Regions from separate parts of the Homo sapiens genome. Here region 1 is linked to region 2. Evidence: fine-mapped expression QTL. A gene starts in region 2. The other region holds a variant in brackets. All regions are shown on one strand. Distances are from middle to middle.

Region 1 (16,388 bases), 220 kb after region 2:
AGCCCCTGGCATTTGGAGGATTGAACCTGAAAGTGTTGGGGCAAGCACATTTGAGGCATAGAGAACAGAACTGCAGGTAGATTGTCTGCCTGGGACACAGGTCCGGATGAGAATGTGACAGGAGATGAGGATGGAGAAATACACAGTAGATAGATTAGGAAGCATCTTACGTCAAAAGGGTAGCTACTTGCAGGTTTTATCATATTTTCAGTGCTCAGATATTCCAGTGAAATCTGGAAAAAATCTACTGAACTAGGAGATTTTAGAGTTAGGAAGCCTTGCTAAGGAACAACTGCAAAGGTCTGAACCAAAGAGGAAGAGAGTTTGAGCTACATCAATATCAGCGAGCTCCAAGAGTCTGTCTTCATGCCTCTTCCACACTGCGAGTGCCCACTGACTTCTCCAAACTCAAGAGATTTTGAGTTAGTTTTTAAGACTTCTTGACTGAAAAGTAATTAGGGAAATGCACAAACATTGAAGTACAAGGATGTTCATTACAGTTTTGTTTATAATGGTGAAAAAATTGAAAATGACTCAATGTCCAAAAATAAAGTATTGGTTAAATAACTATGACACATCTCAATAATGGGATACTATCAAATGTTTGAAAACAGTGTTTAAAAAAATTTGAGGACATGAAAAGACATTCATGATATAGTTTTTTTAAAAAGTAAATCATATGCAATGGTTCTGTGCCTACTTCCTTTTTTTAAAAGTAAATCATAAAAGAATATATTGAATAAAAATCTAGATTTTTGTCATACATATAAGGACTTGAAGGACATACACAAAAAATGTTCTTAGCAGTTACTCTAAATATGGGTATTATGAAATTTGTAAAATCTCTATTTTTAGCTTTAGTTAACATGCATTATTTTTGAATCATGAAAACATTGTTAACTTTAAAGACATTAGGTATAAATGTTAAGGACTTGAAGTATGAAAAATAGTCCCAACTTAGACGACCATTGATTTTGCATGTGTGATACTGCTGCTAACTCTTAATCACTAACCAATTTTCTCAACTTTACCTCCCTCAAATGTTCATCAGTGTGTACTCATGTAGCTCCCACATAGCTGTGTAAATAGAGAGTGAAGCAAAAATCACCATGTTATTATTAATTATGATAATAATTCATATATGTTTATTATATCCCAGACATTAGGGTGGAAGTATTCACATATTCTTGCTTATTTATCTTTTATGGTGTGAGTCAATTTTGTGAGTTTTATTATTATTCCCATTTGCAGATTATGCAGTCTAAGGTCCAAGTTGCTTAAGCGAAATGCAGAACAATGATTGAACGCATTTTCCAAGGTCAATATTTCAAGAGTAATGTGACAAGTTCAATGTATCTGGTTCTTTTAAATGATTGTTTTGAATTTTTTTTGTAAAATAAGGGTGTAGTAAATTTTGCCTTGTCCTATACACATATAAAAGGTCAGACATCTTTTTATGAATTCAAAACTTTTATAGATTCAATCAAAAGGCATAGCAACATTCTACCTAGTGAGGTGTAGGTCCTTTCAGGTAGGAAAATGGATCATTTCCTACACTAAAAATGTTCTCTATGTTAAAAGATTTTCTTTTTACTTTAGGGTGAAATTCATATATCATCTTCCTGGGTTCATGCCTGGCATCTTTTATATTTATTATTATTTCTTCCCTTCAGGATTTCCTTTGGGAAATTTTATTATGAATGGTCACAATACCTACTCATTTATTTCAGTTCTCGAAATTGGTAACACTCCATTTATGTCACAATTTAACTTTCCTAGTGGTCCGTGTTTATTTCTGTTTTATCCTATCATCTTTCAAGTGATCCAGAAAGAGGGTTGGTACTATGTATAATTTACTGGAAGATAAAGAGATGGAAACAGCATAACATTATTAAATGCCATTAACCTCGGAACTTAAAAGTCATAGAATTGGGAGTTGCAAAAACTGCCTATGCCACTCAGTCCACACAAAGTAAAAGAATTCCATCTCTCCATTTCTCCACTTTTGTCTCCTTTGTTATTCAAATGAGCAAAAACTTGTTTTTTTTTTCCTTTTTCATTCTGTTTAAGTAGAGTTATTCTAGAAAACTATGTAGAAAAATTGTATGTGCAAAATTAAATAAGTTGTGGGTGAGAGGGTTTAAGGTCACCTTTTATGATCAAGCCAAGATTGTCAGATTCATGGCCACTGTAACACACAAGGATGAATAGTTGGACTAAAGGATTCAAGATCACATTTTCAGTTCTGAAGACAACATCAACATTAAAGTTCTTGCTTCTCACCACATAAGATTTGACGTGTACACTAATGAAGACAACTCCAGACAAATTATATATACTTTTCACAGAACCAAAAAAAAAAATCTCGGAAGTCAAATCTGTTTGCTTTCATTCTGTACTAAATTCTTCTTATAATCTTTAAAATCCATATTTTTCCGTTCTCATTTCAAGTATTTCAAGATAAGCAGCTGCCACCATTTCCCACTGAAACTTAATTTCATAATCCAACAGTTTCAAAAGTACATCTTCCGGGACTACAAGAAAAAATGATCATCTGTTTCATTTTGTCCTCTTCCATTTCCATTCTTTATTGGTTGCTAAATGAGGTATACTGCTTGAAGTCTCACTGTTCTCAGTGACCAAAGTACTGCAAAAAAAGTAGCATGTCTGAGAATTAGAGCCCGTAGACATGATACTAGAAATTTTAGCCCTTTCTTCCTAAATTCAGCTTCTAAAATCTAGCATTATGGTCCCCAACTACCGGGAAAATAAATGCCTGGTTTCTGAGTTATTCCAACACTCAGTTGTAATGTTACTGTATTTTTAGCTACGTTTTCTTCCCACCTCTAAGTCATTAGAAACTGATGTCATTAGAATTGAACAATTTTGACCCAAAGTTGTTTATATTCTCTTGCTGAAATGGATGTGTCGCCCTGGCCCATAATATTTATACATATTTTCCTTTTTAGTTAATTATAATTAGCATGCTGTTTATTGCATTCCTTTTACCTTTCCCTAAGAATTTGCTTTTTCCTTCAATTGTTTGCATTGGTATCTTTTGAATTTCCTCCCTCTTATTTATTTTTTGGCATAAATAATAATTGGTGCTGCAGCAGGAGCTTGATAAAGCTTTTTATTATGTTCCCTTTTGTCCAACAGCAATCATGAGGCATTAAAAAGGCTAAACAGTTTGCCCACAGTTCCAAGACAAAATAAAAGTAAAGCTTTCAGTAGAGTTCGTTTTCTTGCTTTCCACATTCCTTTTTTATTAAAGGTATAGTTCTCCTATTATTTATGTTGATTTTTTTTCTAAATTCTGTCAATTTTTTTATACGTCTTAATTAGAATTTTCCCATAAGTTTATATGTTTATCTTGTTTTTGAAATGTCTTTCTGACTGTAATATATAAATGGTTATTATTTAAGTCAGTTAGCATGAAAATGCTTCCACAGCTCTCTGCTTACCACAGAATCCTTAGAAAATTAACTCATTAAATCAAATAGACCTTAGACACGGGATGTCAAAGGCTTCTAATCTCCCAGGTTTAGGCAGCGTATACTGTGGGAAGTCAAAACAGAAATTAATACACCCTGATGATGTTCTGGATCCTCTTTTATCTGGCTTTTTTTTTCGTTATTTATGTATTTATTTATTTATTTATTTTTGACATGGGGTCTCACTCTGTCACCCAACCTGGAGTACGACAGTGGTGCAATCTTACCTCACTGCAGCCTCGAACTCCTGGGCTCAAGCAATCTTCCGGCCTCATCCTCCCGAATAGCTGAGACTACAGGCAAGCACCACAACACTTAGCTATTTTATTTTTTGTAGAGACAGGGTCTTGCTATGTTGCCCAAGCCAGTCTCAAACTCCTGGCCTCAAGTGATCCTCCTGCCTCAGTCTCCCAAAGTGCTGGGATTACAGATGTCAGCCAACATCCCTGGACTATTTTTGGGCTTTTTATAGTCTTATAGTGTCTATGACTGTTGCTTCTCTCTCATCTCTCTTACATAAGCCTGCTCCCCAATTTCAAAATACATTTTTATACAAGAGAACTCTAGCTCAAACTGCTTCTATGCTGTTCTTCAAAGTTGTATTAATTTATTCTCCTACACTTTTTTTCCTACCAGATTCTTTAACTCTAGACCAAAAACTCACCTATTAAACGTTTGCTTTCAAAGCCCAACTTAAATGACTTCTACCTCATGAATCTGCTCTGACCACTCCAGATGGAAGAGATCTCACCATCTATAGCACAAGCATCACTCCATTGACAGAGGGCAGACAATTTTGTCTCTTGAGGCTGAAAATTTGACTGAATGGCATGGTGATTTTAAAGGGCATAGGACTAGCCATCCCTTAAGCGGCCTCTCTCACCTTCATACTAAAATATCTATAAAGCTTGCAAAAGCTGAATTCTCACAAATGCCCTAAATATTAAGACCAATCGGCAAACTATTATCAGAATCCGTAAGGATTTTCTATCAATTTGAAGTCCAGAACTGAACTGAAAAACTTTAAAAACTACTTTCCCACTAAAAATAGATTAAATTCTTGGTCCATGAGTAGAACCATTCTTTGCTCTTCTTCAACTATTTGCCTCCTACTCAGAAGCACAGGAACCCTATCAACCACCACCAAAAACCAAATAAGAAAAAGTGGAGTGGGAAAAATATCCCTCTATTAGGTAGGCAGGATTTTATGAGCATCTAGAATAAATGCTATTCCCTAATCCCTAACCCAGTGATCCAAAAGAGTTAAGAAGAATAATAGGATGAGAAAAAGTTTTCAGAAACATACCCCCCAAAACATATAGGCATATCAATATTCATTTTTTAAAGCCAGATGTGAGGGCAAATATAAAATTAACAGGAAAGAAAGTAATATTGGTAACATTTATAGTGAAGATATGACTAAATCCCTTCAAATAACACAATGGCTGCAATGTACAAGGTAAAAACTGTTAGAAGGAAAAATAACAAGCATAATTATTGTGGAAGACTCACATACATATCTCAGGCTTTGACAAATCCAGTAGAAAAAAAAAAAGGAAGGAAAGAATAGGTTGGAATAAAGTAATATCTTCAATAAAATAATGGTATAATAAATAAGGTGATATATATGTATATATGTGCAGATAGATACTTATGAACATATACAGATAATCAAACTAGATGCCAGCAAAACATCTGTGAAATATTTAGAAAATGATGTAGTGTTTATCTCGAAAAAAAATCAAGTAGTTTCAACCATTAAAAGGCCAGCCATTCTCTAATTTCCACAACTATAACTAGAAATTATAAGGAAAATAAATGTCTAAACTTACAGATATCCATCAAATTAAAGTAGAAATTAAAATCTCAATTACAAACCATTTAGAAATTAACAAAAATGACATTACATATCAAATTATAGAATGACAACAAAAATGCAACCAGAGGCAGATTCATCAGAGAAGAAAACTGATAGATTTTCGTTAATGGATTTTGTTGTTGTTGTTGTATATTCCAATAATTTTCCACTGTTTGAAATTAAGCTCAAGCCACTGTAATATTTCTTAATGTCGCATTCCAGAGTAAGTATTAAAATACCAGAGGGAATAATTTGCTGGGCCTAGCATCTACTCTTACTGTCTTTACTCTCACATATTTTGGCCTGTTTTTCCCTGCTCTCTACTTCCTTGAGCCGCCAACTGCTTGGCACTATATTTGATCTGACACACACCTACGGCCCCTTTAAATGTAACAGTTTTTGTAAACACCATCTCTGACTTCAATCCTCAGTCTCTCACATGCTATTTCATAGTTACCCCTTGGTCCACACAGCTAATATTACTTGTAAAAGGCATCCTCACTTCCTACTCAGGACTCAGGGTCTGTGTAAGTTGTAAGAGCATCCCCTTGCCCCCCAGCGGGAAAAGGGGAATTATGAGAGGAAGATAAATTGTAACTCATTTTAAGGGTCTGTGATTTCTATGGCCCCTTATAAGTTTACCACAAAATTAAATGAATTCGTGTGTCAATTCACATATGCGTGCATACATATACACATAAATAGAGGATACAGAAGCCATCTTTTTTTATTTTTATCTATTGTTTTATTTATTTATTTTAGAGCCAAGGTCTCTCTCTGCTGCCCAGGCTGGAGTACAGTGGCACCATCACGGCTCACTGCAGCCTCAACCCCCCGGGCTCAAATGATTCTCTCACCTCAGCCTCCCTAGTAGCTGAGACTACAAGTGTGGGTCACCACATCCAGCTACTTTTTGTATGTTTTGTAGAGACAGGGTTTTACCATGTTGCCCAGGTTGGTCTTGAACTCCTGAACTCAGGCAATCCACCCACCTCAGCCTCCCAAAGTGCTGGGATTGCAGTCATGAACTACCTCATCTGGCCCCAGAAGCCATTTTTTAGGGATTCACTCAGAAGATATAGATATAGATATAGCTTTTCCTAATTTTTTTTTACTTAATTTTTCACTTAATATTATTAGCCAACCTATGATTTCTGTAATAAGTATATGCATTCATAAATTATAGCATATTTTCTCAATTTAGAGTTCTTTCCAACAACAAAATTGTTATTTTCCTGTGAAGGAACTATGGGTAGTTGCTATGGCCAACCATGATACTAAAAGAGAAAATATAGTTGGTTGTTATTTCTGTAAAAGTTCTCACTGAATTGTGTGCATGTACAGAAAGACAAGTTTTTGCAATCAAAATAAGTATGTGGTGTTTAAACATAACATTCTTCTCCAATGTAGAAGAGGGTCCAACGTATCTCTTACATTGGACATGAGTAGCTTGGGGAACATTGAACCCTTTGTGTCTATACCAACACCACGGGAGAAGGTAGCAATGGAGTATCTGCAGTCAGCCAGCCGAATTCTCACAAGGTCTCAGCTGAGGGACGTCGTGGCAAGTTCACATTTACTCCAAAGTGAATTCATGGTGAGCCTTCTATTTATTGTTCACTCTTCAGTCGGTATTTTGATACATGGGGCACTAGAGACGTATGGAAATGATACTGTCCTATACTTAAGCAGTCTACAGTAAACAAATGGCAAAGTGAAATGGTTTTAGATTCACTCAGTCTCATCCACTATTGATAAGTATTAAAATTGGAATGTAGAGCTAAATTAAGGCAGAATATGCAAGAATTGGTGAGGCAAATAAGTGGTATAGGGAGCTGGGCAGAGAAGGGGCATTCCAGGACAAAGAATAGCCTTGCTGTCACTGTCTGGGGAATTAAACTGTTCAGTTTAACTGGAACATTGAAATCAAGGTGGGAAGTGGCAAAAGTTGAGCCTCAGAAGTATAAAAGAAACCCTAGCCTTAATATATGTTTAGGAGCTTGGACTTTATCTTATGTTTTGGATAGATCATTCTATTTGCAGTGGAGTAGGCACTAAAAGGGAGCAGTTTAGAGGCTCTAGTGTTAATCCTGTGGAACTGCGTTGGTGGCCTAAACTAATATAGTAGAAGGGAAAATGGAAAGAATCTGTAGGAATCTACAAGAAGTGGGATTAATTGAATGAGGCAGCCAAAAGTAATGGAAAAGTCAGGGATTGATATTCGTGTTTTTGGTTTGGCCAACAGGGTGCATATGGTGCCCTTTAACGAAATAAGGAACACAGGAGGAAGACCAAGTGTGGGCTAAAAAGAATGATGAATTCAGTTTTAGACATACCAGTGTTGCTAGTGAAAGCTTAAAGCATGATAACATACATCAACTCAGAGAACATGAAGTAAGATTAAACCTTCTTAGGTCTAATTGTTGCCCAAGGAGAATATTGACTTTGTTGATCACCTCTTGCATCTTAAGCCGTATTGGTTGAGTACAATAAATTGATTATTAGTTCAGGCATTTGCAGCCATCCTAATGGTGACAGATTCAGCAATGGGTTGGATCTACTATTAGCCCCATCAACTATTATTAAGTGTCCAAAGTAAAATACAAACATGAAAATCAGACTCTGTGGTGTATCATATTTTACATGTGAAGAAAATGAGACCTGTAGGAATGAAAGAACAAGTCAGTGGTCACACAGCTAGCCAAAGGCACACCTAGAGCTTTTTTTTTCTAGAACTGCAGACAGCTCTTTGTTTATGAAATAAGACCTTACCATAGCCCACTTTCCTGAAAGGAAATTGAAGGCCAGAAGGAGTACACAGGAGAAAGAGAATGCTGGAAGATGACAGACTGTCAGTGTGTGTCAGAAAACAGAAGGTGAGAAGGAAGAAGGGGAGGAATAAAGATATTACCTTTGTGGCTTTGCCCAAAGACACTGACGTGCTTGAAATTACCAAACATGAACATGTGTTTTCCATTGAATATTCAACAATTTTGCTTATTTTTATAACTTGGAACAAACAGGTTAAAACATTTAGTTGGAGCAGAGAATAGGGATAAATATCATGGATAGCTAGCATAATGCAGGTAAAGGAAAAATTATTTTAAAAATAAGTAACTTGGGGCCAGGTGTTGTGGCTCATGCTTGTAATCCCAGCTACTCAGGAAGCTGAGATGGGAGGATGCCTTGAGCCCAGGAGTTTGAGGTTACAGTGAGCTATGATTGTGCCACTGCACACTGACCTAGGTGACAGAGTGAGATCCCATCTCTAAAAATAAATTAATTAATAAACGAATAGCTGTTTCTCTCTGTAGAACAAGCCTCAAATTCATAGTATAGTCCAGCTTTTCTCAAATTTTCAGAATGACTGAAAACTAGGATAATTTGAATGAATTTAAAGATGATTTCTTCTATTTCAATCAATATTAGACTGTTAAGTTAAATTTTCTACTGGAGAAAGTTTAAGTAGTAAAAATATCTTATTTGATCAAATATTTAATGTTTATCAGTCATTAAATAACATAAAAGTTATTTTGTTCATGTTAATCTTATCAAAGTTAGAGAACATACTATTTT[G/A]TATAATCAAATCTTTAAACAAATGTTTGTTTGGACCCTTTTGAAAACTTTGGCTTGTTGCTTTATTTGTCCTGGTTAGCTACAGATACACACCTTTTTAGATCTAATGCACTTACATACAGCCACTCTTTTCCTATTGTTCCCTGTCCAATCACTTGAGGCATATAATGTATACTCTGATAAAATAAGAATAGTAATGTTCTTAAGTGGGAGAAACAGTGTTTGAATGCCCTTCACTAAAAACAGTGCATTTATAACTTAAAATGGAACAGTCCAGTTATAAACCATTTCTTAATTCAAAAAAAAGTCATGTCATCACTTGAATTAACAAAAAAGCCCTTTATATTTACCATTTTGGGAAAGAGGTTTTAATAATCCTAAAAGAGTCACTATTAGTGTGAAAAGATAATCTATTATAGTAAAATTTTTGGTACTAAAGTTATGTAAAAACTGGAATATATTTGAATACATTGTTTTTTAAAAAAATTCACTTTTTAGCATCTGTCTAATCTTTCTAGCAATTATGTCACAGCAGGATTCTTAAAATCTAACCAGTGTTATATGTCTCCTTACTGACTACATATTAAGCAATATTTTCTAACACACAGAGCTGTTTCTTAGAAGTCAGCTTGTCCGGATGCAGCTGATATGTTTAGGAAAGGAAGGGTGTTGGTCCACCAGAGGTGCTAGATCTGTTGTTTTTAAGTGGCTTTGAAGTCCAATAGAACTCTGGATCAGATGCCCCCCTGTGAAGATTTTCTTTGTGGCAGTATTAGATACACTAATTTGATATTATTTATTTTTGCAGGAAATACCAATGAACTTTGTGGATCCCAAAGAAATTGATATTCCGCGTCATGGAACTAAAAATCGCTATAAGACCATTTTACCAAGTAAGCTTCTTGATTTTATAATTTGCATTGTATGGGGGGCAAGGGGAGGGATAGCCATTAGGAGAAATACCTAATGTAGATGATGGGTTGATGGATGCAGCAAAAGCAAACCACAATGGCACATGTATACCTATGTAACAAACCTGCACATTCTGCACATGTATCCCAGAACTTAAAGTATAAATAATAATAATAATTTACATTGTAAAGCACAAGACAAGTCTTCCCATTAACCCTTACCTCAGCATTTCCAATTCTTACAACACCCACTTCATATCAAATTTGGAATTACAAACACATGTCAAGACTAATAATCATTAAAACTATCTGAAGTTAATGATTTTACCTTTTTACTCTTATTATAATGTCCAGGTCACAATTCCAATAGACACATATTCTAAAATTTTGTTGTGCCACACATTATGGCTACCTGATTTTTGTCAAGGGTCAAACAATTCAATGGGAAAAAGAGAGTCTTTTCAACAAATGGAGCAGAAACAACCAGATATCCACATGCAAAAAAATGAAGTTGAAGACAAAAATTGACTCAAAATGGACCAGAGACCTACACATAAGAGCTAGAACTACAAAACTCATAAACGAAAACAGCTGTAAATCTTTATGACCTTGAATTAGTCAGTGGTTTCTTAGATAAGCCAACAAAAGCACAAACAGCAGCAAAAAAAAATTGAACTTCATTAATACTAAAAATTTTGTGCTTCAAAGGATACCTTCAAGGAAGTGAAAAGACAACTCATAGAATGGAAGAAAATAAATATTTGCAAATCATGTATCTAATAAGGGACATGTAGCTACAATACGCAAATCTTACAACTCAATAATAGAAACACAAACAACCCAAAAAATGGACAAAAGATTTCAATGGATATTTCTCCCTAGAAGATGTACAAATGACCAACAAGCATATTAAAAGATGTTTAACATCACTAGCCATCAGTGAAATCAAAACTACAGCAAGATAGTACTTTATATCCATGAGGATAACTATAATTTTAAAAATAGACAATAAAAAATGCTGGCAAGGATGTAGAGAATTGGAAACTTAACACTACAGTTTTAAGTACAGCTACAGCTACTTAGGAAAACAGTTTGGCAGTTCCTTAAAAGATAAAACTGAGTTGCTATATGACCTGGACACTCTACTTCTAGGTAAATATTACCTAAAAGAAATGAAATGTGTTCACACAAAAATGATACAAAAATATTTATAACAGCATTATTCATAATAGCCAAAGAGTGGCAACCATCAGCTGAGAAATGGATAGATAAAATGTAGTATAGTCACACAATAGAATCAATAAAAAGGAACAAGGCACTGATGAACCTTGAATGAACCTTGAAAACATCATGCTAAGTGAAAGAAGCCAGGCACAAAAGACCTCATATTTTGTAGTCCATTTATATGAAATGTCCAGATAGCTAAATCTATACAGACAGAAAATATCTTAGTGGTTGCTTAGCATTAGGGGATATGGAGAATGACTGCTAAAGGACCTGTATTTATTTTGGGGCTAATTGAATGTTATAAAATTGATTTACAGTGATTGTTGCACAGCTCTGTGAAAATTTAAAAAAAAATGCTGTGATGGCACATGAAATGGGGGGATTGTATGGAATGTGAATTATTTCTCAATAAAACTATTACCAAAAAAATGTTGCTGTGCATGACAATGACCTGGAGTCCTTGTTAGTCCTGTGCCCAACCCCAGGGATTTTGTTTAAGTAGATCTGCTGTTGAGCACAGAAAACTACTTTTAGCAAACACCTAGGTGATTCCAATCCAGATGAAACCAGGATCCACTTTGAGAACCACTACTATATGTGAAACTAGATTGAGCTTCATGGAATTTATTAACGTCAAGCAATGACCTGAATGCCAGGGACCAGTAAGAAATAAGAAACAGTCTATAAAATCAAGGAGGTCACAGACTAGAAACGAGAGTCATATAAATGGTAATTATGCTCAGTGCATAGGCCAGAATAAAGATACTGCCCAAGCAGTGTAGGAGTTCAGAGAGGACTGAGTAATTAATTCTGTCCAGAGAAATTAGGCAAAAAAAAAAAAATGGAGAGGAAGTAATATTTTCTATGACTAAACAAACAGATATAGTTGGAGTTTTGGCAAAATCAGTAAACATCTCACGACAAAGCTCAGGAAAGATGGAGCCACAAAGTCTTTTTAACTTTTGACATTGAAATAGCAATCTTCATAATTTAGTTCATTAATTCATTCATAAGACACCAAATTCTTTATATTCATAGTAATGGTGATGTAATAAAGTAATTAAACAATTACTGTTAATACTATCTTTGGCCTTCCCCTTCTGGTGGAATTGGAAATACATTGTTAAACTATAACATATTTTTAACTGCTCTATATAGTTAAATTTATTTACCTAAGGTAGAGTCACCATTGAAGGTTATTTTATGACTATACTTGGCCAAAGGGGATGAAAGTGCTGCGTGTTAGAATTTGTGTTTTCTCTCTCCCTCTCTCTCTCTCTGTTAAATTTTTATCTAAAATATACCAAACATAAGTAATAAGGGAATATACCTCCATCACAATTATATATACCCAAACCATCATCTAATTTTAGAAGGATTTGGAAATTATTAGCATTAGTTCAAAGTTCAGCCTTCTCCATTTCCTGCCCAGATGATATCAGACAACTGCTTCATAGTCCTGTGTCAGTTTTTCCGTTCACAGAACTGGGTGGACCGCTGGATTCAGGGCACCTGTGCTGACAGCTGATGTTGCAAATGATGGATTTTCTGTTGAAAATGTCTGCAGGCTGAATGCCCCACCCACCACCCTCTGTTGCACAAAATATAATTTAGGAAATATAGCTTAGAAAAGCCACACTATTGGGTGAAAGCATCCAAAAAGCCTGGAATGAATACACAAAGATGTTCTTTATGGTTTTAGACTGTAATATGAGATAAACTTGAAATATTACATAAAATGATGATTATTAAATGATCAAGAATTTAAACATTATGATTGTTTTTAGTTTTAACCTACACTAAACTCTTCTTAGTTCTAAAAGCTTGACAGCTTGTACATAATAGCAACATTATACAATTCTGAGAATGCCTTGCAACAGATATATGGATAGGCAAGAATCAATTATGAATAAATCAATTTATAATTATAAATTAAATTATAGTCATTTCTCTAATGACAGTGTTATCTTGGCTGAGATTAAAATGCTAAAGTCAAGTTTATATCAAATTATTTTGCAGTGTAAACAAATATTAGTGATAAAAATATGTCTACATCCTAAATCACAAAAGTAGTAGGAAAAAACAATCATACATCAATAGAAAATTATTAGCAGACAATAAAATATAATACTGTAATAATAATCATACATCAATAGAAAATTATTAGCACACAATAAAATACTGTAATAATAAGTTTAAATTTTTTATTTTTACTTTAGATTCAGGGGGTACCTGTGCAGGTTTGTTACAAGGGTATATTGTGTGATGCTGCCGTTTGGGCTTCTTCTGACGGCATGACACCCAGAGAGTGAACATAGTACCCAATAGGAAGATTTTCAGCCCTTCTCCCTTTCCCTCCCTCCCTTTTTTTGGAGTCCCAGTTACTATTGTTTTCATCTTTATGTCTATGTGTATCCAGAATTTAGCTCTCACTTATAAGTGAGAACATGCAATATTTGGTTTTCTGTTCCTGTGTTAATTTGCTTAGAATAATGGCCTCCAGCTGCATCCATGTTGCTGCAAAGGACATGATTTTGTTCTTTTTTATGACTTCATGGTGTTCCATGGTGTATGTGTACCACATTTTCTTTATCCAATCCACTGTTGATGGGCATCTAGGTTGTTTCCATGTCTTTGTTATTGTGAATAGTGCTGCACTATAATAATAAATTGTATGCATATTTCTTTTATGCAGTGTGTTGATACAAATATAAGATAATATAGATACACTTAAAGAATGCCATTTACTCAGGTCATCATTTTATATTTAAAATTTTAACATCTAATAATGTTTCCTACTTAAATTATGTTTCCTTTTTTATTATATAAAGTACCTAGCACAGAGTAGATATGCAAATAAGTGAACCACTCATTAAAGCAACAAGTTATGTAGCTAAAGCAAGATACTGGAATTAGATTTGATTTCCTACCCCAACAAAAACATTTATAATTTTTGGCAGGATATTTAATCTCCCTATGCCATCCTTTATTCCCAAAAGTAGTGATAACAATACTCTCCTACAAGGCTACCGAGAAAATTAAATGATAGTATGTGTAAAATGTCTGTCAAAGTTCCAACTAATAGTAAGCCCTCAGCTAATGTTAGTTTCTCTTTCCCTCCCTATCTAACTGAAGATGAATCCATTTCTAACCTCAGAACCAATTCCAGGAAATAGGGGTACCATCTATGTATAGAGAAGTTTACAGTTTTAAAAGCAAAGTACTCAAGAGCCCCATTTTCATTCATTTATAACAGTAGTGATGAAAACGATGATGATTATACATTTTTTGTTTAATTCTTGGCTTTTTTTTTTAGTACAAGCTATATATTACAAGAGTTTTTCTTGGAAACCTACATTTCCCCATACTCAGTTATATGTTGTATTCTTGCATTTGTAAAAGGAAGTAGTTGGAGCCACACACAGTGGCTCATGTCCTGGAGTTTGAGACCAGCCTGGGCAATATAATAAGACCCCATTTCCACACACACAAAAAAAGTTTAATTACTAGCCTGGGCAACATGGCAAAACCTCATCTCTACCAAAAAATACAAAATGTAGCCAGGCATGGTGGTGCACATGTGTGGTCCCAGCTACTTGGGAGGCTGAGGCAGGAGGATCACTTGAGCCCGGGAGGTTGAGGTCGCAGTGAGCTGTGATCACATCTGGGAGTAGCCACTGCAATTCAGCCTGGGCAACAAAGTGAGACTCCCCTCTCTGAATTTTTAATAAAAAGGATTTGGAAACTTCTAAATACTTGGAAAATACTGTAAGTTACTAATTACCAACATAATTTAGCTTTACAGGGAAACTGTTTCTAAGCAGTTTTTAGCTTTACCAGTAAATCATATACATCATAGGCATTATAAAAACTGAAGGAAGCAGGCCTCTTTTCAAGCCTGAATGGTGTAGGATGTTTATGGAAACTTCTAACAATCAGTGGATACTGAAAGGCATGAAAGATTTCTTGTCCTCTTTGCTAAGAAAAGAAAAAAATATCTAGAAAGTCAAAAACAGGGCTTTAACTCTTTCTCATAGAAATTAATTCTGACATTAAACCCTCTGTGAGCCACATCCCAAATAGAAATCACAAAGGATACAAAAGTGAATTAAATACAGCCTTTGCCCTCTAGGGGCTCACCACACTCCATTGAGGGCAGGCAGAAATTTAAGCACTTAAAATACAAGATGATAAATACTAAAATAAAACTCAGGGGACCCAAGCAAAGAAGAGAATGCCTAATTCTGCCTGGGAAGGTCAGGGAGAACTTCAGAAAGACAGTATTTTCTGAATTGAGCCCTGAGTAATGAGGAAGACTTTACCATGCAGAGAAGGCAAAGGAAACAATATGTGCAAAAGCATAAAATCTGCAAAAACATAGAACATTTGGGAGATTGCCCTAGGTCCATGGGGCTAGATTATATGATACACGTGGGAAAGCAGCTGTTGGTGAGGCCTTGGGATGATCATTAAGGATCTGCTCTATCTTGCTAAGTACCCCTCTTGGCATTCATCTTCTAGGCCTGCACTGTCAAGTAGAGCAACCAGAACCCACTTATGGCTAGGTCAGTTTACACTTAAATGAATTAAAATTAAATAAAATTAAAACTTTAGTTTCTCAGTTTTTACTAGCCACATTTCAAGTGCTTGAAAGCTAGAGGCTACATTTTTTGGACAGCACAGATAGATAATATTTTCATCACCTCAGAAAATTCTATTGATCAGGGCTGCTCTAAACTGAATTATCAATAAGTATATAAATATAATAGTTAAGTATGTAAATACAGTAGGTATAATAAAATTGAGTCCAACGGACAAATAGGATTATATACAATACCTTCTTGGAAATTCACAGGGTCCATTAACATACTGAAGACCCTGAGAAGTCCTGCAGTAAAAAGAATATGGTTCAGATTTGTTTAACCCAATGTTTCCCATATTTATTTGGGTACTAACCTCTTTTTGTAAAAGATGACTTAATTTATAAGTCATATAGTATAATTCTATATGTTATAGAGGTAATGATTTACAGGTAATAAATATTTTGGGAAATACTGCTATGGGCAATTGGGAAGTATGGATGACATTTAGACAATGGAATCATGTGATCAGATTTTGTTTTACAGAGCACCTTGACAGCTATGAGGAGGATGGATTGGAAAAAAGCAAGATTGAAGGCAGGGAGACCAGGAGATACTTGAGTCCTAGTCCAAGAAGACAGCCATGCAAACAGAGAGGCAAGACAGACCCCAGCGTATTTTAGGAGACAGAACAGGCAGAATATGCTAACATTCAAATGCACAGAAACTCTACACGGACTGT
Region 2 (16,388 bases):
CAAGCGATTCTCCTGCCTCAGCCTCCCAGGTAGCTGGGATTATAGGCATGTGCCACCACACCCGGCTAATTTTTGTATTTTTAGTAGAGACGGTTTCACCCTGTTAGCTAGCCTGGTCTCAAACTCCTGACCTCAGGTGATCCATCCGCCTCTGCCTCCCAAAGCGCTGGGATTACAGGTGTGAGCCACCGCGCCCGGTCTCATTTCCTGCTTATATTTCTCATTCATATTATGTTAGCTTGACTTTTTGCTAGTGGTTTTAGTATAAGGGCAGCTCACAAAGTTTTTCTTTGTTTCTCAAAATGAATAAAATATCAAAATAGGCACCCACATTTCTAAATCAATAAGGTGTTTATTTTACACCAAAAACATGGAATAAAGAGCAGAATTCTTAGTTGGTACATCAGTTGGCTTTGGGTAGTCCCAATTTCTGAATCTTGTTAACGGCTTTGCTATCTCACAGTTGTATTTGAAATCAGTGAAACATGAATCAATGAAAATCTCTGGTGTAAAAATATTCATTTAAACTAATTTGGCAATTTGCCAACTGGATTTCTCTTTATATATTTTATATATTTACAGATATGCTGAAAATTATTTCTGATACTGTGGGGTTTTTTTTTCAGATTGGTTAAGATATCTATGGAATCATGAGAGTCTTTGCTGTAGCTATTCCCTCGGCCTAGGAAGTTCTTTAACCAGGTTTCTGCTCAGCTAATTTCAACTTCCAAGTCTTTCTCAATGCTCGCTTTCTCCACTTAAAGACCCTACTTAATTCTGCAAAATCCTTGCACTCATATTCTTCTCCCACCCCACCCCCACCTGCCTAATTCCCCTTACTTAGATCTACTTTTTCTGTTTCTCATAGCAGTCATCAATTTCCATCATACTATATAATTTACTTATTTCTTATATTTACTATTAAAGGTACATTTCACTTACAATTTAAGCTAAAGCAAAAATGTTAGTCTATTTTGTTCAACAATATATCCCAAGTACTTAATATACTTCCTGATGCATCATAGGTACTCAATATATAGTTTAATTATTTGAAATCAAGCAACATACCAACGAAATGTCGGCAGATGATTCCACTGTTTTTGGAATGTATGCGATATAGTATATCCTACCGTAATGTGACTTCAAATGACTTGACTTCACTGAACATAGGCACCCGTGTTGCCCTATCACATATGGTTTCTGATGAATGAGTCGAACTTAAAACCGTAAACAACTGCTTCATTGTCTGGGTGTATTAGTGGTTGTGTTATAGTCAATGGACATTTTTAGTAAGATTAACTCTTCATGTTATAGAGGTGCAGGTGTCTAACAAGAAAAAAAAATTTCTTCTGAAATGCTTTGCAACCACGAACTATAGACTAATAAACCACCCCATTCTCTATTATAGGCATCCAGCAGCAAGAATGAGTGAAAGAAATAAGTATTTTTAAAAAGTTTAAACTTTTATTCAATATTATTATTATTATTATTATTATTATTATTATTATTATTTTGAGATGGAGTCTTGCTCTGTTGCTCAGGCTGGAATTCAATGATGCTATCTCAACTCACTGCAACCTCCACCTCATAGGTTCAAGGGATTCTGCCACCTCAGCCTCCCGAGTAGCTGGGATTACAGGCATCCACCATCATGCCTGGCTAATTTTTGAATTTTCATAGAAACGAGGTTTCACCATGTTGGCCAGGCCAGGGCAGGTTTTGGACTCCTGACCTCAGGTGATCTGCCTGCCTTGGCCTCCCAAAGTGCTGGGATTACAGGTGTGAGCTACCGTGCCCGGCCTTAAACTTTTAGTTTTAAAGAATGAAAAGTCAACACCGGGGCCTGTTGTGGGGCAGGGGGAGCAGGGAGGGATAGCATTGGAGATATACCTAATGTAAATGACGAGTTAATGGGTGCAGCACACCAACATGGCACATGTATACATATGTAACAAACCTGCACGTTGTGCACATGTACCCTAGAACTTAAGGCATAATAAAGATATATATATATGCAAAAAAAAAAAGAATGAAGAGTCAGTGAGGGAGACATTAAGGCCTATATTTGGGAGATGTCCTTTTAAATCATCTTGTAATTATGTGAGAAAATAATGTAGAGAAATGAGAGCAAGATTAAATGATCTAATCAACCCACAGTTACAATCCCAGGATATACTTAGTGTCCCAGGCTATTGTGTGAACAAGTTGTTCCAAAGTGGCCTCATTCAAGGAAATCTAAAAGAATGGCCAACCATTGCAGAAAATGTATTTGAATGCTCAAAGTAGATAGTCTAAGCCATAACAGAGGGCTGTCACATCTGTGTGCTGCTCAGGATGATGGATAATATAAGTGCAGCCTGATTAGTGTCTTGGGATAAACAGAGAGCTAAAGCAGGAGAGTCAGAGGTTTGTAAATAAATCTATTACTGACATCTTGGATGAATCTGACCTTTGCAGTGCCAGAATAGATGACAATACAATACATTGGTACCAAGGGCTAGCTCCAAGAAAACTTTGTTCTTCGTTTTGAATAAAATTTTAATGATGAACCAATAGCAGAATCTATAGGTACATATAGCCTTTCTGCTTTTCATATTTTATGTTTTACTACAATAGCATAATTCACATATGCACAGAAAAGTATATCTGCCTTGTTTTAGGTACCTAATTTTTTTCCTTAGGATACATATTGCTGCCTTTGTGTGTGTGTATCAAATGCTTTAATTTAACAAAACTACAACTGTGTTAAGTTATAAAATGTAATTGTTGTTATCCATCTTGAAGTCTGTGTCTTGGGATAAGAACACTGTTTTCAATTTAAGTATTAAAATAAGTTCGGTCATTAAGCAGGGATGTTGTACAATACAGCTGATAACAGCATAGTGCTAGGGGTCACCATACCTGAGTTCTAATCCCAGCTTCACCACTTACCAACTGGATGGCTATAGGCAAATTACTAGCTTCGCTGAGCTTCAGTTTTCTCCTCTACTACAAAAAAAAAAAAAAAATAATACTTCACACAGCTCTTGTGAGACTTCAATGTGATAATATATATTTTTAGAATTTTAGTGCTTTTCCTCCCCTATTCTTATTGCCCCTTGCAATTTCATTGTTCTCTTCACTGTATGCTTATGAGAAAGGGTAGATCATTCTTCTTGTTATGGTTGGGAAAATACTAAAAAATAATAATGGTGAATTTATATACCTGAACATGGTATTTTCATCTGTGAATTTTGAATTCATTCCTTTTCATCCTGAGCTATATTCCACTCTGAATATAGCTTAATTCACATCAATTATTTACTTTGTAAAAAGAAATTATTTTTCTTCTTTTCTCCTCTTATAAAAGATAGCTCTCAGACAAAAGGAAACAGACTTTGGGATTGATAAAGTGGCTGCATAAAGGATGGGAAAGGGCAAGCACAGAACAAATCTTAGTGAGGTGTTTATAACTGTTACCTATTGCTCCCTTACATGTTCAGAAGTTCCTTGAATCCATTTTGCTGCTTTATATCTCTGCCACTGGCTCACACAATTCCCTGGCCTTTCTCTTCATGTAGAGCAGTTAGAACCTACTTATCCAGCCAGACTCAGTTCGTTTCCTGTTGCCCACCAGTTTCTTGCCTGCTGCCCATCCCCTCCTCTGCTCCCACCCTCCATAGAAGAAATCATTTCCTCCATTCTTCTCCATTCTATCTTAAGCATCTTTCTAACACAGTTCCTCTAAGCATGATTTTACTTGCTGTCTTTGTTCACTAGATGCTAGGGCCCAGAGTCCACTGCCACAAGCAGTGTCTCTTGTTCTCCTGGAGACAGTCTTCTATGAGTGTTCCTCAACACAGAGCTTTACTGTGGGGCCAGGCATCTCATGCCCAGCCCTGATCTAATCATCTAATTCTAGTGAGCAACCTACAACTGAGTGTGTGTGTGTCTGTGTGTGTGTGTGTGTGTGTGTGTTATTAGAGGTAGTATAATATAGTGGTTTGGTATCAAATTATCAGATGTACATCTTAATTCTATCAATTTACTTTTTAACTGATTACTTACTACTTGATTTTGGGCAAGTTACTTCTCCATGCCTCAACTATATTATCTCTAAAATGAGATCATTATAGTATCCTTTTGTAGAAATATTATAATGTTTAAATAGGACATCCAAATGCTTAGAATAGAACCTGGCACACAGGAAGCACAGTCAATGTTAGCCATAATTATACTTAAATAATAGTAATCTAAATAACTTAAGTAGGAGATCCTTATAATCAATGGATCTGATTTCTCAATTTAAAGTGTCTTAAGGAAAGATGGCTGACATGAATAATTTTCATCCATTTATAGAGAAGTAAATATGGATGCTCATAATGATTAAATCTGTTTTGAAGGCAGGCTCTGAAAAGCTTCTTTCTTGCATAAATTTTCTCTAAGACTCACCTCATAAGAAAAAGAAATTATGCATCTTATGTGGAGGAAAATTCCATATGATATTTTTTATTTATCTTGTAAAATGTAAATGATTCTTTTATGACATAGCTCTGTAGGCCACTACTAATTTGTATAGTTCTCTCATAGTAATTTCCATGCTTCTTTGAATTACAGCTAACTTTTTAAAACCCTGATGCAGTGTTTTAACCAAGCTTTTTTTCCAAAACACCAAGTCACCTTCACTAGCATTAGATCACAGTTAAGGAAAAACAGCACCTATCGACTCAGAATATTTCTGTATGAGTTAAGTGGTTGACTTTTTCACTAATTGGCTAATTCATTCATTGCTGTTTGACTTCACGAACAGCAATGAGTGAATTAGCCAATTAGTGAAAAAGTGAATTGAAGCCGTTACAAGTATGATATTAGATTGACTCACATAGGAATATGACCTTTTTCGTTACTTTATCATTTCTAAGTAAATTAATAATGAATGTCTAGTCACCAAAATTACAGCCCACTCAGGGTTATTTTTACCATGCTGAACTAACTATTCTAATGATATATCCAGCCAAATTGGAAATTGGAAATTTTTGCTGCTAACGGAATTTTCATGCATAGTTTAACAATTCAGCTACCTGCAGCCCTGAACAAAATACATTGCCAGCAGGATGCTTTTTGGCAAAGTCATAGTCAATTATAATAATGGGAATTTTAAATGCCCCACCAATAAATGTTGGAATTATCTGTGGAAAAGGAAGGGGTTCAGAACATTACTGCAGCATTGTTTCATTACCATAAGTAAGTATATTTTATTCTTGGAGATCTATGTAAGTTTGATAATTAGTTATTTTAGGAAACAAGAAAATAAGAAAAATAGACCTATTGTAAGTGGGATACAATTATTTTTCCCTAACCTCCAGCCCTGCAGCATTTCTAGTAACAGATGTTAGATGAGAAGAGTTATTCTTCTAAGCTTTACAGAATGCTAAATAAATTATCTCAAAGGTTGACTCAGTAAGAATTTCAAAGAGTTAATTGTCAGTATTGAACTTTGTCAACTATCATTTTCATTTATTCATTTTTGAGTATCTATTTTGCATGAGGCATTGCTCTAGGGAGTTGGGACATATCAATAAAGTCATCAAAGTTCTTCAACATTGGAGCTCAAATTCTGTTTTGCGGGGGGGAGTAGGGAAATAGATACTAAACAATAGATTTTATAAGTAATTATTTTGGTTTGTTAGAAAGTGATACGGGAAAAGCAAACTGGAGGACAGTGAATCAGGAATAGGAGAAGAGGTTGCAGCTTAGAGTGGTTTGGGATGAAATGATAGTGCCACAGAAATGGAGTGTGCCACACGCATGGGGGAGTAGGGGGTGGAGCACGTTGCTAGAGAGGGGCTAGACATGGAGATATGTCTCTATTTTCAGCAGAGAAGGCCTGTCAAGATATTAAAAGTACATCTCATTGTCCCCTTCTCCCACTTGTTGGAGTGCTTCCTGGCCTTGTCTCTCAGAGCTGAAGATGACATAAATCATAAAAGAAATAAATGGTACCGCCTGGGCTCTCTGATCTTATAAGGTCCCACCTAATTTAAGCTCTGGTGGATAGCCTATTTCCCATTAGTTGTCTCAATTCACAGAGGATGGAGAAAGAAAGCACTGAATGAGATGTGCAGCTCAACTCAATGGGCACTTGTTAGCCCCAATTATTTGGCTAGGACAACTTTATTCAAGTTAATGGAATACAAAACTCAGCAGTTCTTATGGAGACTTCAATGTGCTGTAGAACAAACCACAGATAAATGAACTGTCTGAAAGAATAATATGAGGCACGGCTAAACAAGTGTTGTGGAAGAGAAAGATCACTGTAATCTAGAGTTAGTTAGAGTTAGGGCTTTCTGGAAAAGTGAGACCAACATTACACCTTCGAAAACTAGTGTGGTGGTGGTGCAAGTGGAGGAAAATGGGAAAGAGGCAACAGTGTCCATAAAGACACAGAGGCAGAAAGGGCAGAGGCCCTGGGATAGTTAAAAGAGAAGTCTAGCTGAGGGACTTCTTGACTTGACTAGCAGCAATTAGCCATGACTAATAAGGCTTTCCACACTCCAAAGACTTAGATGGAGGGATAAAAAACCATCTAATGGCAGACTGTGGTAGCCTCCCTAGAGACACAGAGCTGGGCCGGATGAGTCCAGGCACTGACGTGATCCATTATCTTTCACCTTAAAGAGTAAAAGGGAAACTAAAGTTAATTACCTCCACGAAACAAAAAGGTGCCTTCTTGTGCTTCAATTACATGGATATATTCTACTAGTCTAAAAGTATCTTCTCACTTCTTTCTGTCACTGTGAGGACTTGAGTCAGAAGAAAGTTTAAATACAGTCATTGAGCTGGAAAGAGTGGAAAGAGAAGCAAAGAGGGGGAAGCTGTAGGAAGGACGAAGTCACCCCCAAGATACATGGTTACTGCTTACACCAAGCAAGCTGCCTTGGGAACGCTTCCCCCGAGCAGCCAGAATGCTCAGCAGTGGAAGACACCTCTATTCCTGTAGGCGAGTCCTGGGAAGCTGGTCAATCTGCAAATGCCAATTCCCAGCAGTGAGCTCGGTCCACGTGTAAATCAAGATTTGGGGAAAGAGTAGGGTGGGTGGCATGGTTGACAATGTCATCAGCTCCCTCCTCTGACTCCTGTGGTCGTGCCCCCATCTACTCTCACTCAGCTACACCCCACCTTCGGATTTGTGATGGACGCTGGGTCCCTAGTAACCACAGCAAGTGTCTCCCCCGCACTTCCCCCTTCCCCACCCCCACCCCCACCCCCAACCACCACCCCAGCGATGGAGCCTACTCTGCTCCAAGCCGCCGCTAAGACCCGGAGAAGCGGAATTTCACTTTGAAATTCCCTTGCCTCGTGAGGGCCGGCGCTGGGCATGCTCAGTAGCCGCGGCGCTGCTGCTGGGCTGCTGGGCTGGCGCGGAGTCCACCCTGCCGTCTCCGCCTTGGCTTCTGGGCGTCCAGAAGGCCAGGCATTTGCCGCCTCTGAGCGCTTCTGTTCCCCTTACCCGCAACCTCCTACTGCTCTTCCTCTCTCCCTCTCTTAGGGAGGTTGAAGCTGGTGCTGGTTTCTGTCGGCGCCACAGACTGACTGCTCTGCAAACCCCAGCCGAGGACCTGAATCCCGGAGACTAGAAGACCCTTGGCGGTGGCTCTTTCTAATAGCACTTTACCTGAAGTGGGGTCGTGGTGGAGTTTCTCCTCCACCTCTCAATGCAAACACTATGCGGAGAGCAGTCTGCTTCCCTGCGCTGTGCCTGCTCCTTAATCTTCACGCTGCAGGTAAGGGGTTGCCAGGCTTAGAGCCGGAGCTGTGCATGAGATGGGAAACTGCACATGCTTAAGGACTCTAGGAAAAGCTTGCCTTGCGAAGAAAGCCTTTCTAAAAAGGTAAAACAGGACAGTACCTGACAGGGAAGGGGTGAGGGAGTCGTGCACCTGTTGGAAAACTGAGGCCGAAAACTTAACCTAAAATTAGCTCTTGATTTTTCTTTACTTTATACGAAAATAGTGAACATTTTCAATATGAATACAGGTTTGCTCCCCCCTTCGCCTCCCCTCCGTCTAGATTCCCTGCTCTTGTTTCTAGGCTATGCACTTAACTGTCAATTTTTCAGGAGAGGGATAAGACATCCTGCTAGATGTAACCTTTTCTACTGCAGCGGCTACTACATTCATAAGGTCTCTTGGTCTAGCGAGCGCTCATAGGAAGGCATTGGCTGTAACCTGATGGACCACATCTCCGCCCAAAAGATCGAAATACATGGTTCACATTAGTGATGCTGCACCAGGCTCCTTTGGCCCCTGCTCTTGTCACTCGAATTTTCTAAGCCAATAAGAGGAAGAAAAGGTTTCAAATAGAATCCTCTTGTCTCTTTCAGCACCGTGGCTAGCGTCCGCTGGCATATTAAAAAAAAAAAAAAAAAAAAAAAAAAAAAAAACAATTACAGTTCCAAAGCTGACAACCCTGGGTTAGGCACTGTCCCTCGGACAGATTTGATAAGGTGTAACCAAGAGTAACAGTGAGACTGCTCCCAAATATAAATAGATTTGAGGCACCAGAATCAATATCAAGTCTCGTGAGGAAGCAAACCTTGGGAAGTACCTGAGAGATATTATATGTGGTGTCCCTGCTTTTTGCATACATAGCACCTCTATTTAATGCAGACAGACTTGCTAGGCTGAATTCCTTATCATTGTCACACACACATGAACCAAAATAAAATATGGCAGGGAGATTTTAGAAACCCTACTGTGACAGCAGTTGTCCATGCAGTAGTCCTGTAACAACCAGAGACGAGGCATTTTCCCTGAGTGTGCTTCTCATCCAATCACACATATCCATTCATTCCTTCAAGCAACATTTGCTGAGTGTATACTATGTTCTAGGGGTAATGAGTAAAAATAATTGTTCTGAAATTACAATCCTTGCAGTATCTTTTTTAAAAGAGTGGGTGAATTTTATTCTCTGTGTACAATAGTAGGAGTGAAATATGGTACTTTCTTATTCCAGCTAACGCTATTATTTAAATGTATCATGAATCTTTTGAGCAAATAATGCATAGGATTATTAAAGCTATTATTAAATACACATGTTAATTGTTATAATTATGATGTTATATTGTGGAGTTTTCAATAGTTCTTTGGCACATTTTGAGAAGTAGAAAATAGCTATGACTTGATTATTAAATTATTTGCAAACAGCTGTAGTGAATTATTTCGTTACCACATACAATTCTTCAATGCTGAAATGTGGGATGAAAACATACACATTGGGTTGAGTTTTATTTATAGTATTGCTTAATAATAGACTGACACAAACATTCATTACAGAAAAATCTCAATTCTTACTAAGGTAGCAATGATTTAGCTGGTCTGCCAACAATATCAGTGTAGTCATTTTTTCAAAACTAACATATAAAAAAGTTTAAAGATCACATTTGATACATCTTGAGTAATTATATCTTAAAAGTTATAAATAAACTGAAGCATGTGAAAAACATGTCTTGATTTACTGTAGATGAATATTCGGGATGAGAAAAATGAGGACTTTTGCTCATCAGATGAGAAACCTAGAAGCCTGTAGCCCTAGATTTTACCTGGAGTTCTGCCAAAGGGTATATTACCAAAGCCAATCCAATCCATCTCTACTTCAACTTTTTAATTTGCAAAACAAAGATAAAAAGTAAGATTAATCAACCAATTTTAATTTAATAAGAAAATGCATTTAAGGACATTTTTATATTTCAATTGCAAGATACTATTCATTGTATTCATATTTAATATAGTAAAATACATTGGTGTTTTATCACAGCAGATTGTAAGTTTAATATTATAGTTCTCTTGCCAATTTCATTTTAAATGCATTTTAATTTTAAACAGCAATTTGTGGGTCACAAGCTGTCATCAGATTAAAATTTATCACAGTTATCTAATAACATTGTTAGGGCTTTTCATCAGAACTAAAACAAACACAGCTCCTTGGTCTAAGCTTCTATACATTTGGAGATTAAGAAAATAAGTGGATGGGATGACAAAGATCAAGAAATCAAGATATTAATCTCTACTTGTTGAAGGTGTGAGTTTGTTACTTTTATGGAAGACTTTTCTCTCAGAACAGAGGCTGACTTCATAAAGAAGGGAAATGAATTCTATACATTCAGGCCTCTTTAACTGTAAAGCTAATTGATCCATTTTGGTTACGCCCAGGGTATCAGCAACTGCTTTATGCTGGTGGAACTGATGACACCTTATAATGCTTTAGAGATGGGAGGAATGTGCTAACGGGATGTAAGTGTTCTTTTTAGCTATATTAGGAACTGTTGCCTTCAATATAACCATGCCTGTAATGATAAGTAGCAAACTGCTTGCAACTTGAGTGCCATCTCCCATTATTTTGCTTATGGTTGCCTAAGACACCATCGGGGGGAAAAAGAAGATTATGACTCGCATTCTGGCTAGGGAGAAGTACTGTGGTCTATAATAGCTGTGGGAGAAAAATGAGGAGTGGGTACCATGCTGTGTAAGTGGCATCTCTGGGTAAATTAACACTAAAGGATTACTAAGCATGGTTCTTGTTAGAGAAGCTGGACACTACTCTACCCATGGCAGCCGATTTTTATAGATCACCTAACAAGGAAGTTGTGGTTATTGTCCATCCAACTGCTTATTTTACAGGTGAGAAAATGAAGATCTAGAGTATTAAAGTGGTAGTTAATAGCATAGTCGGGATAAAAGCCCAGGTTTCCAGACCCGTGGTTGCATACTATATAAAATTATACACTGGTTCTACAATAGGTGAGGCCACCATTGATTAAGTTAGTGGTGCAAAATACTTTTTACCTAACTGTCCTTATTCTTTACTCTTTCGTGAACCAGTTTAATATATAAACTCCAGTTGAAAATACCACTTCAGGAATATTCAAGGAGGCAATTAAAAGCCACCACAATAATACGAATGGTAAAAAAATATTATGTGGAAGATCCACAGAGCTTATTTTCTTCAGCATTTCTCCTCTTCCTTTGTCCAAAGAAGCATATTCCATTTGAGGAGATATTATTTATAGTGTTGTATTTTAGTTGCAAAAGAGTACATTTTTGAGATATATTAAAAATTCTCATGTGAAAGCTTTCTTTTTCCTAGGGAATGTTTTGCTAACAAAATACAGAAACTGATTTCAATCCATTGCTTTCTCTTTGAGTTCTGGAAAAGGTTCTTTCAAATTTCTGTGTTGTTCTTGCTATCAGCCTTTTTGAATGGCACAAAGACTGCCTTCAATGTATCTCCTGAAACTATCTCTTCACTCTCAGAGAAGTGCATAGTCAATTTCCTTAGACTCTAAGAAGAAAGGTATTCTATGATAGTACCAAGAAGATCTGGGAGGTGATTTGCAGAAGTACCACCCTCAAAAGAAAGGATAGACTAACAGGTAAATGATATATTTTAAGATTTTAAGATGTTCCTTAGAACTCCAGAATTTGTTTTTCCTATTGAAAATCTCTCAGAGAAGTGCATAGTCAATTTCTCTAGTCTCTGAGAAGAAAGGTATTCTATGATGGTGCCAAGAAGATCTGGGAGATGATTTGCAGAAGTACCACCCTCAAAAGAAACGATAGACTAACAGGTAAATGATATATTTTAAGATTTTAAGATGTTCCTTAGAACTCCAGAATTTGTTTTTCCTATTGAAAATCACTCAATATAGACCTTACAATGGTCTAGAGTCTCTCTCCACATTATTTCTATGATATTATCTCTCACTACTTTCTTCTTTTTTTACCTCTCTCCAGCCATATTTATCCTTCTGTTTCTAGAAGATGCCAGGCACTCACCCTTTCATACTGTTTTGCTTTTTTCTTTCTCCAGGTGTCTCCACAGCTTAATCCCACAATAATTTTAGAACTTTAATTAAATATTACCTTGTTAATGAGGTTATTCTATTTCATATTTCATTTTCCCTTCCCCCCATCACCCAGATAAAAATTCTAGCACCCTTTCCCTGCCTAACTTTTCTTTCCCCAGAGGTCTTCACCACCCAACATACAATATATTTTACTTTTTTTATTGTAGTTTCCCCTCTCTGTATTAAAATGTAAGCCCATTTAGGGCACATATTTTTGCCTGTTTTGTTTATTATTGCATGTATTAGAGGTCTTGGGCTACCTAGTACCTGGGGGCAGTTCCTGACATAAAATCTTTCTAAAGATTAAATAAATAAGTTAAATAAATAATGTAATACAGTGATATTTCTGGTCTCTTCTTTTTGCATTTAATATCTTCTTAACACCCACAAAAAACACACATAGTCCACTTAGCCACTTCTGGAATGGACTTAAACAGCTCATTTGTCCAAAACTCATGTTGCCTCACATGCCCCCAAAACACACTATCTCTAACAGATTTTGCTGTCATTGTGAACTGAAGGGCAATAAAGGATGGGTTTGTGTTAGACCAGAACTACTAATCAACTCAGTGAAAAAAGTCTTTCAAACTGATTGCCAGATATTGTGCAGCCCAAATTCTTTGCTGATTGGCTACATTTTCACTTCTCAGTGAAATGCCTTGTACATGTAGGAATGGCTACAGGGATCAGCTGATTTACAAACAGAGAGTCTAATACACTAGAAAAAACTGATTTGCTTCTTTGGTACTTAAGAGACACAGGAATATGTATATTGGAGATGACATATTTCTAGCACCTCCAATAGAATAGCACCTCACATATTCCATTGAAAATCACATCCTACCTAACACCTTGTAAAAATTCTGGGATGCATTATGCACATTCAGCCTTTTCTTCTTTATTTCTCACCTACTTCTCTATCAGCTTCCGTCCTCATCCTATCATCCTATGGTTGAACATAATTAAAGAGGTTATTGTAATGTATGTTCTTGTTATCAATGCATTTCTATAGTACTTATATATTTTGACCCCTTTCTGAATTTTAAAATTTTTCCTCACTTGACTTCCACAGACAGTCATTACTTCCTAGCTTCCCTCTTATTTCTCCAGCCATTTCTCAATTTGTACTTTTAGGTCTTCTGCTGTGTATTATTTAATGGTTAGTGCTCTCTACAGCTTGTCATTGATTTTTTGTTATTTTTCTCTGTATACAATCTCCCTGGATAATTATACTCAGACTTGCACGTCAAAGATTCCAAAATCCACATTTCCATCTCAGTTATCTCCCCTGAACTCTGGTTCTATATTTAAAATTACCTAGAAGTCATTGTATATTCCATAGTAATCTTTTTGTTTTTGTTGTTGTTGTTGTTGCTGTTGTTGTTGTTAGAGACAGGGCCTCACTCTGTTGCCCAAGCTTGAGTGCAGTGGTGCAATCATGGCTCCCTGCAGCCTCGACCTCCTGGGCTCAAGCAGTCCTCCTGCCTCAACCTCAGAGAGTGCTGGGATTACAGGTGTGAGCCACAGTACCTGGCCCCACAATAATCTTATATACAACTATTTTTACTCAACACTTCTCAACACAATTACTCTGATAAATATTCCCTAACATTGTGAATAACACCAGGATTCTTCACAATGACCCAGGTCTGAAACAAATAATTGATCCTAGATCATCCCTTTGCTACTTTCATCTTAAAGGTTTCAAACTCTTCTCATAAGATGTTCTCCACTCTCCATGATCATGTCACTGCCTTGAGACAGATCCTTATTTCTCACATAATATCTTGTGATGACCTCCTATCAAATTTATTCTTTATAATAATGTCGGAGGTGAAACTCTTAAAAGCATACCTGATCATATTCTTTCTCCAAAAAATTCTTTAATACAGCTATCTCCTTTTCTTTTAGAATAAACTCCAAACTCATTAGGAAGGCAGTCTTTTGCGATGAGGTCTTCTCATCTTGCCCTCCTTTGCACACTAATATCACACTAAGACAAAATTTCCTTTGGTTTGCCATGTCTTGAATCATTTCACATACTGTTCTATTTCTCTTAAATACCAATACTCTGCTCCTTTTTTTAGATGACTCTTTCTCCAACTTCAAATGTTGATCAGGCATAGCCCACTTTGAGAATCTTCTTTTTTTTGGATGACTCACCTCATTCAAGTAGCTCTCCTACATTTCCCTTTTCAATCCTGTATATTCCCCTGTCAATGTACTTAACCTGTATACTGAAGTTTTTTGAGAACAATAACACAATTGCAGCTTTATTTCTATATACTTATTCCCTAGAACTATGCTTGTTACCTAATATGGCATCAGTAAGTGTTCAATGAATGAATACATATATTAAATATATTTGTTAAAATGAATTGTGATAAATTAATTTACATTGACCAAGAGATTATATCTCATCTTCATGACCATAAAGAAGGTAATTGACTTTACTACTGCCACCTTAGTGCAATTTACACTTATTGACAACAAGGAAATGGAGATGGGACAGAAAATTTTCTATGTAAATACACTCCATAAGATAAGTTTGTGTCCCATGGGCATGATGCTATTTGTAGTGTACTTGTGTGCTGAACTCTTTCTAGATGGATAGACATTCTTGCATGATTTTCCAGTACTACTTAAGAATAGAATGAGATTTTTTTTTTACTTTAAAGAGCTCAAAGAGTTAGATAAACAACATAGCATGATAGTTGTCCACTACAGAATGGACCCGGAACTCCTAACCCTGATTACTGATTGGTTATTATCTACCTATAGCAAATACAAGACATTTACACATTCAAAATCAGGTGGGAGTGTGAGACAGTGGCTTCAATAAATCAAGACCAAAAATTATTCAACCCTCCTTTTCTCTCTGAATTAAAAACCAAATCATCACACAAAATGTCTGAATATTTGAGTGGTTGTATACATTTTTTCTCTCATTTTGTGTGTATACAGTCTTTATAGAACCATAAAGTTTTTGGATCCCACATATTTTTTCTCATAGAAGACATTCTTACACCTGAAGAATGGAGACTATTTTGTGAATTATTTAAAAATCGCTTTATGTGAGATGATCAGATCACAAATCAAAAGCCCATTCATTGCCATTAGTATTAGAGATAACACGGATGTTATATTTTATGGCAAGTTTATTGTTAAATCTTAAAAGTTGTTCTGTGAGTCAAATTCAAAAGCTAGTGAAAGCCATTTTTTCCTTTAAAAGGGGATTTGAAAGATTCTACTTGGCCCATGAGTGCATTTTTCATCTTCAAGGCATTTACAAATGCTGACACACTTAGAGTAGCATTGATGTTTCCCAACATAAAGGATGTTAGTAGTTTCGAAAAATAAAGATGTAATGCTAAAATATTATTTTAAGATCAAATTTCCTAATGCTTATGTACCATATAATGTAACTATAAGTGCCTACTATAGTAATGATATTTGCCACAAAAGGACAATTAGCAAATTTATATTATAAACATTAGCACTTTCCACTTAAATCATTTTTATTCATAATGACTGCATAAACTTTCCTCATAATCAAATCTCATTTGATTTTAATATATTAAGATGTTGATGTCCATTAAAATTGCAGCCACATGGACCAACAACAAAGCAAAACTATTATTTATATTATGCAGCAGTCTAGAACTTAGCAAATGCCAAGTTCATTGGGGACATGAATTATTTTTTCCTATTTCTATTTTATTTTTTATTTCCTTTTTTTCAGATCTAAAGCAATGTCCATTTTCTGACTTAAATGAGAAGACTGGCCTCAGGCAGTCCTAAACTACTGATTCTTTGGAAAGGAGCATTTAATGAGCACAGAGTAAAAGCATCTCACAGTGATTCACTGGACTGTACAGCAATATGTACAGAGCAAGACTCTACAGCTATTTCACTGTACTAATGATCCAATTCCTGAGGCATACTGGAGAGAAAAGGAAGCAATAAATGCACAGAATCAGTTCACCACTGGGTGACTTTCACTTATCTGGGAAAAATGATCAAACATAATATCATAGTGAGTTAGTTAGGTTGAAAGACCATCAATCCATTAATGTAAATGTATGGCTTTCAATCATAAGCAATTTAGTTTCTTTGTCTTCTTGATTCAAGGTGGTATTTTTAAAATTCTCCCTGAAGAAAATAAAGTAGCTTAAACAGAAGAAAGGAGAAAATTTAAACAAGGGGAAATGTCATGTTTCTAGATAACTTTTTAGCAGAATTCCATAGTAGTTGAGAGTTAAGTGGGATAATATATCCAAACTTGCAGTCTTAGAGAGTGTCATAGAAGTGTTAGGCATTACGTGATTAGACTAAGGAGATGATAAATGGTTAATTGTACCTTGGAGGAATTTCTTATTCTTTTTATGTTTATGCCAATACTGGGTAAGCATACACACCTAGATACATTCTGGATTCTGAGTGGTTTTTTTTTTTTTTTTTCAGTTGAGCCTTTTCTTGATAGTTTTCATCTGTATGCTATAGG

The links. PIP is the estimated chance that this variant, and not a neighbour inherited with it, causes the effect.
Region 1: its variant is fine-mapped to the expression of PTPRR in lung (TOPMed, PIP above 0.99).

Annotation. Positions count from the first base shown.
Region 1 is chr12:70,691,698-70,708,085 of GRCh38, reverse strand. PTPRR (protein tyrosine phosphatase receptor type R) reads left to right here. Exons shown (of 14, transcript NM_002849.4): 7 at 6,763-6,949; 8 at 9,737-9,821. Among named protein-coding and RNA genes, the nearest start is that of PTPRB, 62 kb to the right of the region's middle. The variant G/A (reference allele first, on the strand shown) is at 8,929.
Region 2 is chr12:70,911,708-70,928,095 of GRCh38, reverse strand. PTPRR (protein tyrosine phosphatase receptor type R) reads left to right here and starts at 7,358. Exons shown (of 14, transcript NM_002849.4): 1 at 7,358-7,763. The coding sequence starts at 7,706.